Homo sapiens: one gene and its partners. The protein of the gene in region 3 purifies or fractionates together with the protein of the main gene of each other region. This does not show direct contact. Each region holds a gene or a part of one and is shown on either strand. Other genes may lie near its edges.

Region 1 (3,500 bases), about 100 Mb from region 3:
AGGTTTAAGGTAGGATTGAGAAGCCTTCATAGAAGGGATCACCATTGCCATTGTATCCAGGGTGGAAGGAAAGGCTGAAGGTAGATGCAAGGAAGTTTGTAGGCATGGTAACAGGAAGTTGAGGCTCTTCCCATCCCATGGTATCAATTATCTGAATTCTTCATGAGGCAGGATCATTTGCTGAAATGAGAGTGGAGAAGAGGAGAGTTGTCAGTGAGGGGGCTGAAGATATGAAGAAAAGGCTGTGTGCAGTGGCCCCCTCTTGTAATCCCAGCACTTAGGGAGGCTGAGCTGAGATGATCACTTGAATCCAGGAGTTTGATACCAGCCTGGGCAACATAGTAACAGGGCATCATAATAAGACCTCGTCTCTACAAAAAAAAATTTTTTTTTTTTTTTTTTTTTTTTTTTTTTATTGAGACTATGTCTCGCTCTGCTGCCCAGGCTGGAGTGCAGTGGCTCGATCTCGGCTCACTGCAAGCTCCGCCTCCTGGATTCACGCCATTCTCCTGTCTCAGCCTCCCGAGTAGCTGGGACTATAGGCAGGCACCCATCACCATCACCATGCCTGGCTAATTTTTTTCTTTTTTTTTTTTTTTAGTAGATATGGGGTTTCACCGTGTTAGCCAGGATGGTCTCGATCTGCTGACCTCATGATCTGCCCGCCTTGGCCTACCAAAGTGCTGGGATTACAGGCATGAGCCACTGCGCCCGACCGTCTCTACAAAAAATTTAAAACAAATTTTAAAATTAGCTGGATGTGATGGTGGGCACCTGTAGTCCCAGCTACTCAAGAGGCTGAGGTGGGAGGATCACTTGAGCCCAGGATTTTGAGGCTGCATGAGCTATGATCAAGGCACCACACTCCAGCTTGGGTAACAGAACAAAACCCTGTCTCAATAAAATAAATAAATAAAAAGATAGAGAAAGGAAATTACTCAAGAACTGTTATATAGCTAAAATCTTTTTTTTGTTTGTTTTGTTTTATTTATTTATTTTTATATATTTTTTTGAGATCAAATTTTGCTCTGTCGCCCAGGTTGGAGTGCAGTGGCGCAATCTCGGCTCACTGCAACCTCTGCCTGCCAGGTTCAAGCGATTCTCCTGCCCCAGCCTCCCGAGTAGCTGGGATTACAGGCATGTACCACCACGCCCGGCTAATTTTTGTATTTTTAGTAGAGATGGGATTTCACCATGTTGGCCAGGCTGGTCTTGAACTCCCAACCTCAGGTGATCTGCTCGCCTTGGCTTCCCAAAGTGGTGGGATTATTACAGGCATGAGCCATCTTGCCCAGCGTTTTTTTCGTTTTTGTTTTTTTCCCCGAGACAGACTCTTGCTCTGTTGCCAGACTGAAGTGCACTGGCGGATCTTGGCTCACTGCAACCTCCACCTCCCAGGTTCAAGCGATTCTCTTGCCTCAGCCTCCCGAGTATCTGGGACAGGTGTGCACCACCACGCCCAGCTAATTTTTTTTTTTTTTTTTTTGAGGCGGAGTTTTACTCTGTCGCCAGGCTGGAGTGGAGTGGCACAATCTCGGCTCACCACAACCTCCACCTCCTGGGTTCAAGCGATTCTCCTGCCTCAGCCTCCCCAGTAGCTGGGATTACAGGCACCCGCTACCACACCAGCTAATTTTTGTATTCCCTTTTTTAGTAGACGGCATTTCACCGTGTTGGCCAGGCTGGTCTCGAACTCCTGACCTCAGGTGGTCCACCTACCTCGGCCTCCCAAAGTGCTGGGATTACAGGAGTGGGCCATGTGCCTTGCCTGGCTAAAATCTTTTGAGTACTCAAAGTTGCTGTTGACTGTGTTGGGGTCTTTTATTCAGGTAACATGTGTATTCTCATTTTTATGTCCCAAGTGTTTATTCCAGCATATGGTATTTATTTACCTGCTTCACTAAGTAGTTAGTAAATTAAAATATTAACAGTAATGAAAGTGTGTCTTCTGATTTATTTCAGCAATAACAGTAGGCAAATAAAATATCTTTATTACTAAGAAAAAAATTGAGAGAGGTTAAACAATGTGCTTAAGGTTACAGATATAACAGTCATAAAGTGTGTATTATGTTGAATCAGTCTAATAAGTTGCTGGCTCAGATACTGCTATAAAAAGAGAGAGCAAAAAACTGGAACATCCCTGAGGAGAACAGAGCATAGAGCTTATTAGGGCAATCCAAAGGATTGCTGGCAGCAGACAGGGACCAGCTGAATCTCGAAATACTGACTTCCATGGTGGCATCAATCTCTGCATTTGCATCTGTGTGGTTTGTGACATATTGGGCAGCACTGAGCAGTTCTCTTGCAGGGCCAAAGATGTAGGAGGCTAAGGTGCAGAAGAACAATGAATGGTACAAAGGGAACTAGGGAAAATGGTACAGCTTCATGGGATAAGAAACAAAGGTGGGAGGGGCCTGAGGATGGGAGAGAAAAAGAGGAGTTAAAGAACCGGTGGGTTGAAGTGCCATTAATAGGAATAATTGTCATGGCCGGGTGTGGTGGCTCACACCCATAATCCCAGCACTTTGGGAGGCCGAAGTGGGCAGATCACTTGAGATCAGGAGTTTGAGACCAGCCTTGCCAACATGGTGAAACCCCATCCCTACTGAAAAAAAAAAATACACATATGTGTGTGTGTGTGTGTGTGTGTGTGTGTGTGTATATATATGTGTGTGTGTGTGTGTATGTGTGTATATATATGTGTGTGTATATATGTGTGTGTATATATGTGTGTATATATGTGTGTATATATGTGTGTATATATGTGTATATATATGTGTGTGTATATATACACACACACACACACACATATACACACACATACATATATATATGTTAGCTGGGCGTGGTGGCATGTACCTGTAGTCCCAGCTACTCAGGAGGCTGAGGCAGGAGAGTCGCTTGAACCCGGGAGGCGGAGGCTGCAGTGAGCTGAAATCGTGCCACTGCACTCCTGTCAGGGTGACAGAGTGAGACTCTGTCTCAAAAAAAAAAAAAAAAAAGGAATAATTCTCAGAGCTGGCTGACCAAGAGACAGTAATCAGAGTAGGGTGTCTGATGGACAGTTTCAGAGGTACAGCCATTGGGGGAGATGACAGGATAAAGGGTGTAGCCATAGATGGGTGGTGGTGAAGATCTCTGAGATGAGGAGCTCAAGGAATTGAGAGGCCAGGGTGTGGACATCAGGTAATATTATAACACCATTATTAGATGGAGAGAGCTGCTGAGAACTACTGCCAGAGTGAGTTGAGTAGAGTGAACTGGAGGGGTAGCGTATGATAGAGCTAGGTGACATGATGAAGGTAGTAGCCCGGGATGAGGGTAGGTTAAAGGGTGGGATGGCACAGGTAATGGAGGATAGTGGTTCTGGATAGTGCTTCTGGCTTATCTCGTGCCTTCCCATCTGTTTCCTGTAGATTGACGTGCACCTCCACGATGCCCTGGGCCGGCCACATCAGTGTGGGACAATTCAGCTTGACTTCCAACTGCCCCTGAGATTT
Region 2 (3,500 bases), on a different chromosome or scaffold from region 3:
CATTTTAATGATTTGGCAGAATAATAACTGCAAAAAGACTAACTGAATTTTGAATTTTGTCATCATTCAGAATGTTACCATGGTAATGACTTCAGTTTCTGGACATTTACTGGCTCATGATTTCCAGATGCAGTTTCGAAAATGGTCAGTACAATTCTCAAGGGAAGGACTTTCAGATTATAGTAAGTTGTGAAATTTCACAGGAATTTTGAGGCATGTTGATCTTACTGGGTAATTTTTTTTTTTTTTTTTTTTTTTTTTTTTTTTTTTTGTTGGAGACAAAGTTTCAGAGTGAGACTCTGTCTCCCAGGCTGGAGTGCAGTGGTGTGATCTCGGCTCACAGCAACCTCTGCCTCCTGGGTTCGAGTGATTCTCCTGCCTCACCCTCCCGAGTAGCTGGGACTATAGGCACGTGCCACCACACCTGGCTAGTTTTTGTATTTTTAGTAGAGACAGGGTTTCACCATGTTGACCAGGCTGGTCTCGAACTCCTGACCTCAGGTGGTCTGCCCACCTCAGCCTCCTGAAGTGCTGGGATTACAGACCGTGAGCCACCATGCCCGGTTTTTTTTTTTTTTTTTTTTTGAGTCAGGGTCTCGCTGCGTTACCCAGGCTGGAGTGCAGTGGCGCAATCTCGTCTCACTGCAACCTCCGCCTCCTGGGTTCAAGCGATTCTCATGCCTCAGTTTCCCAAGTAACTGGCCTTACAGCCATGTGCCACTACACCCAGCTAATTTTTTCTATTTTAGTAGAGATGGAGTTTCACCCTGTTGCCCAGGCTGGTCTTAAACAAAGCAGGGTTTGCCTTCTTTTGCCTCCCAAAGTGCTAGGATTACAGGCGTGAGCCACTGTGCCTTGGTAATTTATTTATTTATTTATTTATTTTATTTATTTTTTGAGACGGAGTTTTATTCTGTCGCCTAGGCTGGAGTGCAGTGGCACAATCTTGACTCATTGTAACCTCCACCTCCCGGGTTCAAGCGATTCTCCTGCCTCAGACTCCCGAGTAGCTGGGACTACAGGTGCCTGCCACCACGCTTGGCTAATTTTTCGTATTTTTAGTAGAGACGGGGTTTCACCGTGTTAGCCAGGCTAGTCTCGATCTCCTGACCTCGTGATCCACCCACCTTGGCCTCCCAACGTGCTGGGATTACAGGCGTGAGCTACCACGCCCAGCAGTAATTTATAATACTAAGATGACCTAGGATTATCTGATCCATTGTGAATTTTTATTAAATCTTTAAACAGTCACTTTTGGTGTTCCTCAAAATTGCCAGACCTTTTTCATGCAGCCATTGGATTGCATTTACCTGTGAAAGGGCTCCAGAATGCCATCTTATCAGTCCTGTTCACACTCTTGGAGAAGTGGACAGTGTGTCATGCAGAGGGTCATAGCCTTACTTTCAATTCACCGGGACCTTTTCTTTTGGGGATACACCATGAACCCATTGGAACAGTTTGCTGTCATTAGATTGGAGGGCTCTCTGTCATGTACTGAGTTGGGACTCTGTTTTCATTTCTTTTCTAGGCAGAGCTGCAACCCTCTTGTCCTCTTTGAAGCAGAAATTGAAAAGTACTGCCCAGAGAATTTTGTAGACATCAAGGTAGGGTCTTTTGGAAGACATATGGCACTGAGTCAAACCACAGAGTCAAACAGAGTGATTTCTTTGTTTTTAATGCATTGGCATTTGGAGATAAGGTTTTCCACCAAAGTCACTACCATGATTTAAAAAGCTGGTTCCCACCCATTGTATAAATGTGGCTAAGTGGCCAAGGGACTGAAGTAAACTTTTTTTATGAATGGTAGTTGTTTAAATCCTAGGAATAAAGGCTGGACATGGTGGTTTATGCCTGTAATCCCAGCAATTTGTGGGGCCAAGGCAGGATCACATGAACTCCAGGAATTTGAGACCAGCCTGGGCAACATAGTGAGACCCTATCTCTCAAAAAAAAAAAAAAATTTAACCAGGCATGGTGATGTATGCCTATAGTCCCAGCTACTAGTAAGGCTGAGGAAGGAGGATTACTTGATCCCAGGAGGCAGGAGGTTGAGGCTGCAGTGAGCCGTAATCACACCACCACACTCCAGCCTGGTGAGAAAGTGAGACCCTATCAAAAAATAATCCTAAGTATTGTAAATTATTAGCGCGTAGCCCCCATCTCACCCCTTGTTAGATGAAAGAGGCTACAAAGTATAAATGCCTGTTTGACAGTAAATTGCCAGTTGTCAAGCAGTCAGGGCATGTATAGTTAATTTATTTTTAATTTTTATTTATTTATTTATTTATTTTTTGAGACGAAGTCTCGCTCTTGTCCCCCAGGCTGGAGTATGATGGTGCAATCTCAGCTCACTGCAACCTCTGCCTCCAGGTTCAAGCGATTCTCTTGCCTTAGCCTCTCAAGTAGCTGAGATTACAGGCGCCTGCCACCACACCCGGCTAATTTGTGCATTTTTAACAGAGATGGGGTTTCACCATGTTGGCCAGGCTGGTCTCGAACTCCTGACCTCACGTGATCCACCCGCCTCAGCCTCCTAAAGTTTTGGGATTACAGGTGTGAGCCACCGAGCCTGGCCAGTTAATTTATTGAGAACTGATAAAACTTTGGATGAAATTCAATTGGGATTCATTTTGTTTTGTTTTGTTTTGTTTTGTTTTGAGATGGAGTCTTGCTCTGTCACCCAGGCTGGACTGCAGTGGTGCGATCTCGACTCACTGCAAGCTGCGCCTCCCGGGTTCATGCCATTCTCCTGCCTCAGCTTCCCGAGTAGCTGGGACTACAGGTGCCTGCCACCATGCCCGGCTAATTTTTTGTATTTTTAGTAGAGACAGGGTTTCACCGTGTTAACCAGGATGGTCTCGATCTCCTGACCTCGTGATCCACCCACCTCGGCCTCCCAAAGTGCTGGGATTACAGGCGTGAGCCACCACGCCCAGCCGGCTTCGTTTTTTTTAACTAGGTCATAATCAGAACCTCTCGAAGTGTGCGTGCGCGCGCGCGCGCGCGCGTGTGTGTGTGTTAGAGCTGAATTTCAGGTTTTGTCATATTGGGGAAGTTATATTAAACCCTCTATTCTAGAAACTCGTTTATGGTTCTAAGGGGTTGTATCATGATTAGCACCAATGAGAGCAGTTTTCTCTGTTCTCTTTCCCTTGCCAAGTTGTCACACTCCAAGAGCAGCATTAACCTTCAGTCAGATCCCCTTAGCTTAGAGATGTCAAGTCACTGTTGTGCAATTCTGTTCTCACCACTCTTATTCCACTGCGAACTTAAGAAAACTTTGGAACGAGAGACTCGCCAGTGCCAGGCTCTGGTGATCTGGACTGACTGTGATAGAGAAGGCGAAAACATCGGGTTTGAGATTATCCACGTGTGTAAGGCTGGTAAGTGCTGCTGCTGCTGCTGACTTTCTCTACTTTGGAACTCCATAAATAGAGTGTTCTTGTTTATATGTGCACATGGGCCACGGATGAGGTCCTCTGCAGGTACTCTCCCTCCCA
Region 3 (2,564 bases):
AATCAAATGACTAGGAAGTGGGCATTAGTACCTCTTCTCCAAGACTGAACAAAAGGTCAGTATGGAGAGTGCAAAGCAAAACATGTGGCTCCAGCTTCCAAACTGGTTGGAGAAGAAAGAAGTACCAGTATGAACATCCAAGAACTAGACAAAGCAAACTATAATCAGGTGTAGGTGTGAGGCACTGAATCAGAGGCAAGAGAGAAACAGGCAGTGGCTAAAACAGAGCCTGCGAGCAGGAATCATACTCTACTCATCTTTCTGTGTCCAGCACTTAACATAGTGGCTGCAGAATAGATGCTCTGTGAGCAGCTGTTAAGTTGTACTGTGTAATGGTCCACCAAGGTAATGCCAGTGGATTAGGTGAGGTACAGAGAACTGTGTATAACTTGGTATCTTGGTTTGCAAATATTTCTACTCAACAAATTCTCGATCTATGTGTATTAAGAGATTCTTTTAAATCTAGAGTATTTACATGCAGGTACATACACAAGACAATGTTTTGGTTGAAATCCATATTACCTATTTATTCAACAAAAAACTGAGTATCTTCTATGGTCCAGGCCATGTCCTTGGCACTGCGAACAGAGATAAGTCCTGGCCCTCAAGGAGCTCACAGTCTAGTGGGGGAAAAAAGACACAAGAATAAATAAATATAATGTATTTGGAGTTTGCAAAGGGGGCCACTATGGGAGACAAAGAACAGAGGAACCTAAATATCCTATAGTTAGCATCCACAGGAAAGAAAGACCTGGCAATGTACATTTTTGTAAAGAATAGATAAGGCAGTGGTTCTCAAAGTGTGGCTGGCTAATTACCTACATCAGAATCATTTGGAGCACATATTAACAAGTAGATTCCCAGTACCTTCTGCACATATTCTTGATTTAGTACGTGTGTGGGGGGGTGGTGTACGGTTGAGGCCTGAGAATCTGCATTTTAAAAGCACTTTAGGTGATGCTACTGCATCTTAAAGTTTCAGAACTGATGAGATAAAGTTTGTTCTTTTAACTGGAATAAAGAATGATCTACACATCTGAAATGCTAACTTGTATTAGTCTTTAATGAGGGGCAAGGGAAGTAGAGAAAAGGATGGTAGTTGATATTTTCTACTATAGTGAAGTTAATTTAATTCTCACAATAATCCTATGAGGTAGATATTATTATCCCTATTTTAGATGGAAAAAAAACCCCAAAATTAGATAGTTTAAGCAATTTGTTCAACAGTATAGAGCTAATGAATAGCAACACTAACATATGAACCCAGATTCACTTAACTCTAAAGCCTGTCCACTTTCTATAACACCATGCTAGCACCAGGGGACAAATTTACTGATTAAATGGTACAATTTTCTTTGAGTTCTTTGCCAGATCTTTCTAGGTAAATAAATATAAAGAACAGCTACGTGGTACTTTAGTCATGCCCCACACATTTATCCATGGACACATCCTACTTGGCAGTTGGGGACTGAGGACAAATCCAGGAGGAATGATTAAAACGAATGGCCACTTCTTACTCCTTTTTCCATCATTTCCTCACCCGCTGGTGGAGGTGTATCAATGTACTATGTATGGCTAATAACTGGGCCCATCTGGAAAGACAAGCAAACATAACTGGATACCAATAAAAACAACCCCATCTGATGTCAAAAATTCTTGGGACCCAAAACATTCAGAAGGTCAGAAGGCATTTAATGAAAATGGCAGGGCAGATAAGACTCAAGTTTCTCAAAAGATAAACTGCCAGGACCAGAAGCAGGTCCAGAATTTACATTAGTTAACAGCTCAACCTTTAGAGAAATAGTGAAAGGATAGCAGCTTCCCCAGTTTAAAAAAATACTATCTGTCTCTCTCAATACATAGACTCAAAGGTGCAACAAAATAGACACGGCTCAGAGAATAGTGGGATGTCCACCCTATTTAAAGAGCTTAGGGACAGGCCCAACCTATAAAAATTCTTCTGGAAGGAAGAAAACACACACACACAAACTGCGAATACTGCTTAAATTCCCACTCACCACATTCAGTGTCATATAACCAGATCTTAGGCAGGAGCAGCAGAGTGGAGCATGTTAGATCAATAAAGAAATGTCAGGCCAGGCACGGTGGCTCACACCTGTAATCCCAGCACTTTGGGAGGCCAAGGTGGTGGATCACTTGAGGCCAGGAGTTCGAGACCAGCCAGCCTGGCCAACAAAGTGAAACCCTGTCTCTACAACAATACAAAAATAAGCCAGGTATGGTGGCATGCGCCTGTAATCCTAGCTCCTCAGGAGGCTGACGCAGCAGAATCACTTGAACCAGGGAGGTAGAGGTTGCAGCGAGCTGAGATCACGCTACTGTACTCCAGCCTGGGCAAGACAGAGCAAGACTTCATCTCAGGAAAAAAAGAAAGAGAAAGAAATGCCATGGTAAAGGCAGCTGACAACAATACTGGGGGCCTTGGGTTCAGAAGGCTGGTGTGTAACCACCGTCCTTTCCTATCACTGAGCTTGGAGCCACAACAGTGACACTACAAACGAAAGATGGGTTTCCAGCTCTGGAGAACAACTTTCTTATTTCTG

Evidence for each region.
Region 1: the proteins of ATPAF1 (region 3) and TARS2 fractionate together in Homo sapiens (co-fractionation; one large-scale study listed by BioGRID). This does not show direct contact.
Region 2: the proteins of ATPAF1 (region 3) and TOP3A purify together in Homo sapiens (affinity purification with mass spectrometry; one large-scale study listed by BioGRID and IntAct). This does not show direct contact.

What each region holds. Positions count from the first base shown.
Region 1 is NC_000001.11:150,500,919-150,504,418, forward strand, and holds part of TARS2 (threonine--tRNA ligase, mitochondrial), read left to right. Parts: intron 1-3,416; coding exon 3,417-3,500. UniProt on the Homo sapiens protein: Catalyzes the attachment of threonine to tRNA(Thr) in a two-step reaction: threonine is first activated by ATP to form Thr-AMP and then transferred to the acceptor end of tRNA(Thr). Also edits incorrectly charged tRNA(Thr) via its editing domain.
Region 2 is NC_000017.11:18,304,995-18,308,494, reverse strand, and holds part of TOP3A (DNA topoisomerase 3-alpha), read left to right. Parts: intron 1-70; coding exon 71-144; exon of another isoform or gene 145-182; intron 183-999; exon of another isoform or gene 1,000-1,022; intron 1,023-1,528; coding exon 1,529-1,604; intron 1,605-3,274; coding exon 3,275-3,383; intron 3,384-3,500. UniProt on the Homo sapiens protein: Releases the supercoiling and torsional tension of DNA introduced during the DNA replication and transcription by transiently cleaving and rejoining one strand of the DNA duplex.
Region 3 is NC_000001.11:46,632,237-46,634,800, forward strand, and holds the end of ATPAF1 (ATP synthase mitochondrial F1 complex assembly factor 1), read right to left. Parts: 3' UTR 501-2,564; downstream 1-500. UniProt on the Homo sapiens protein: Has a complex stabilizing activity in the assembly of the mitochondrial F1-F0 complex.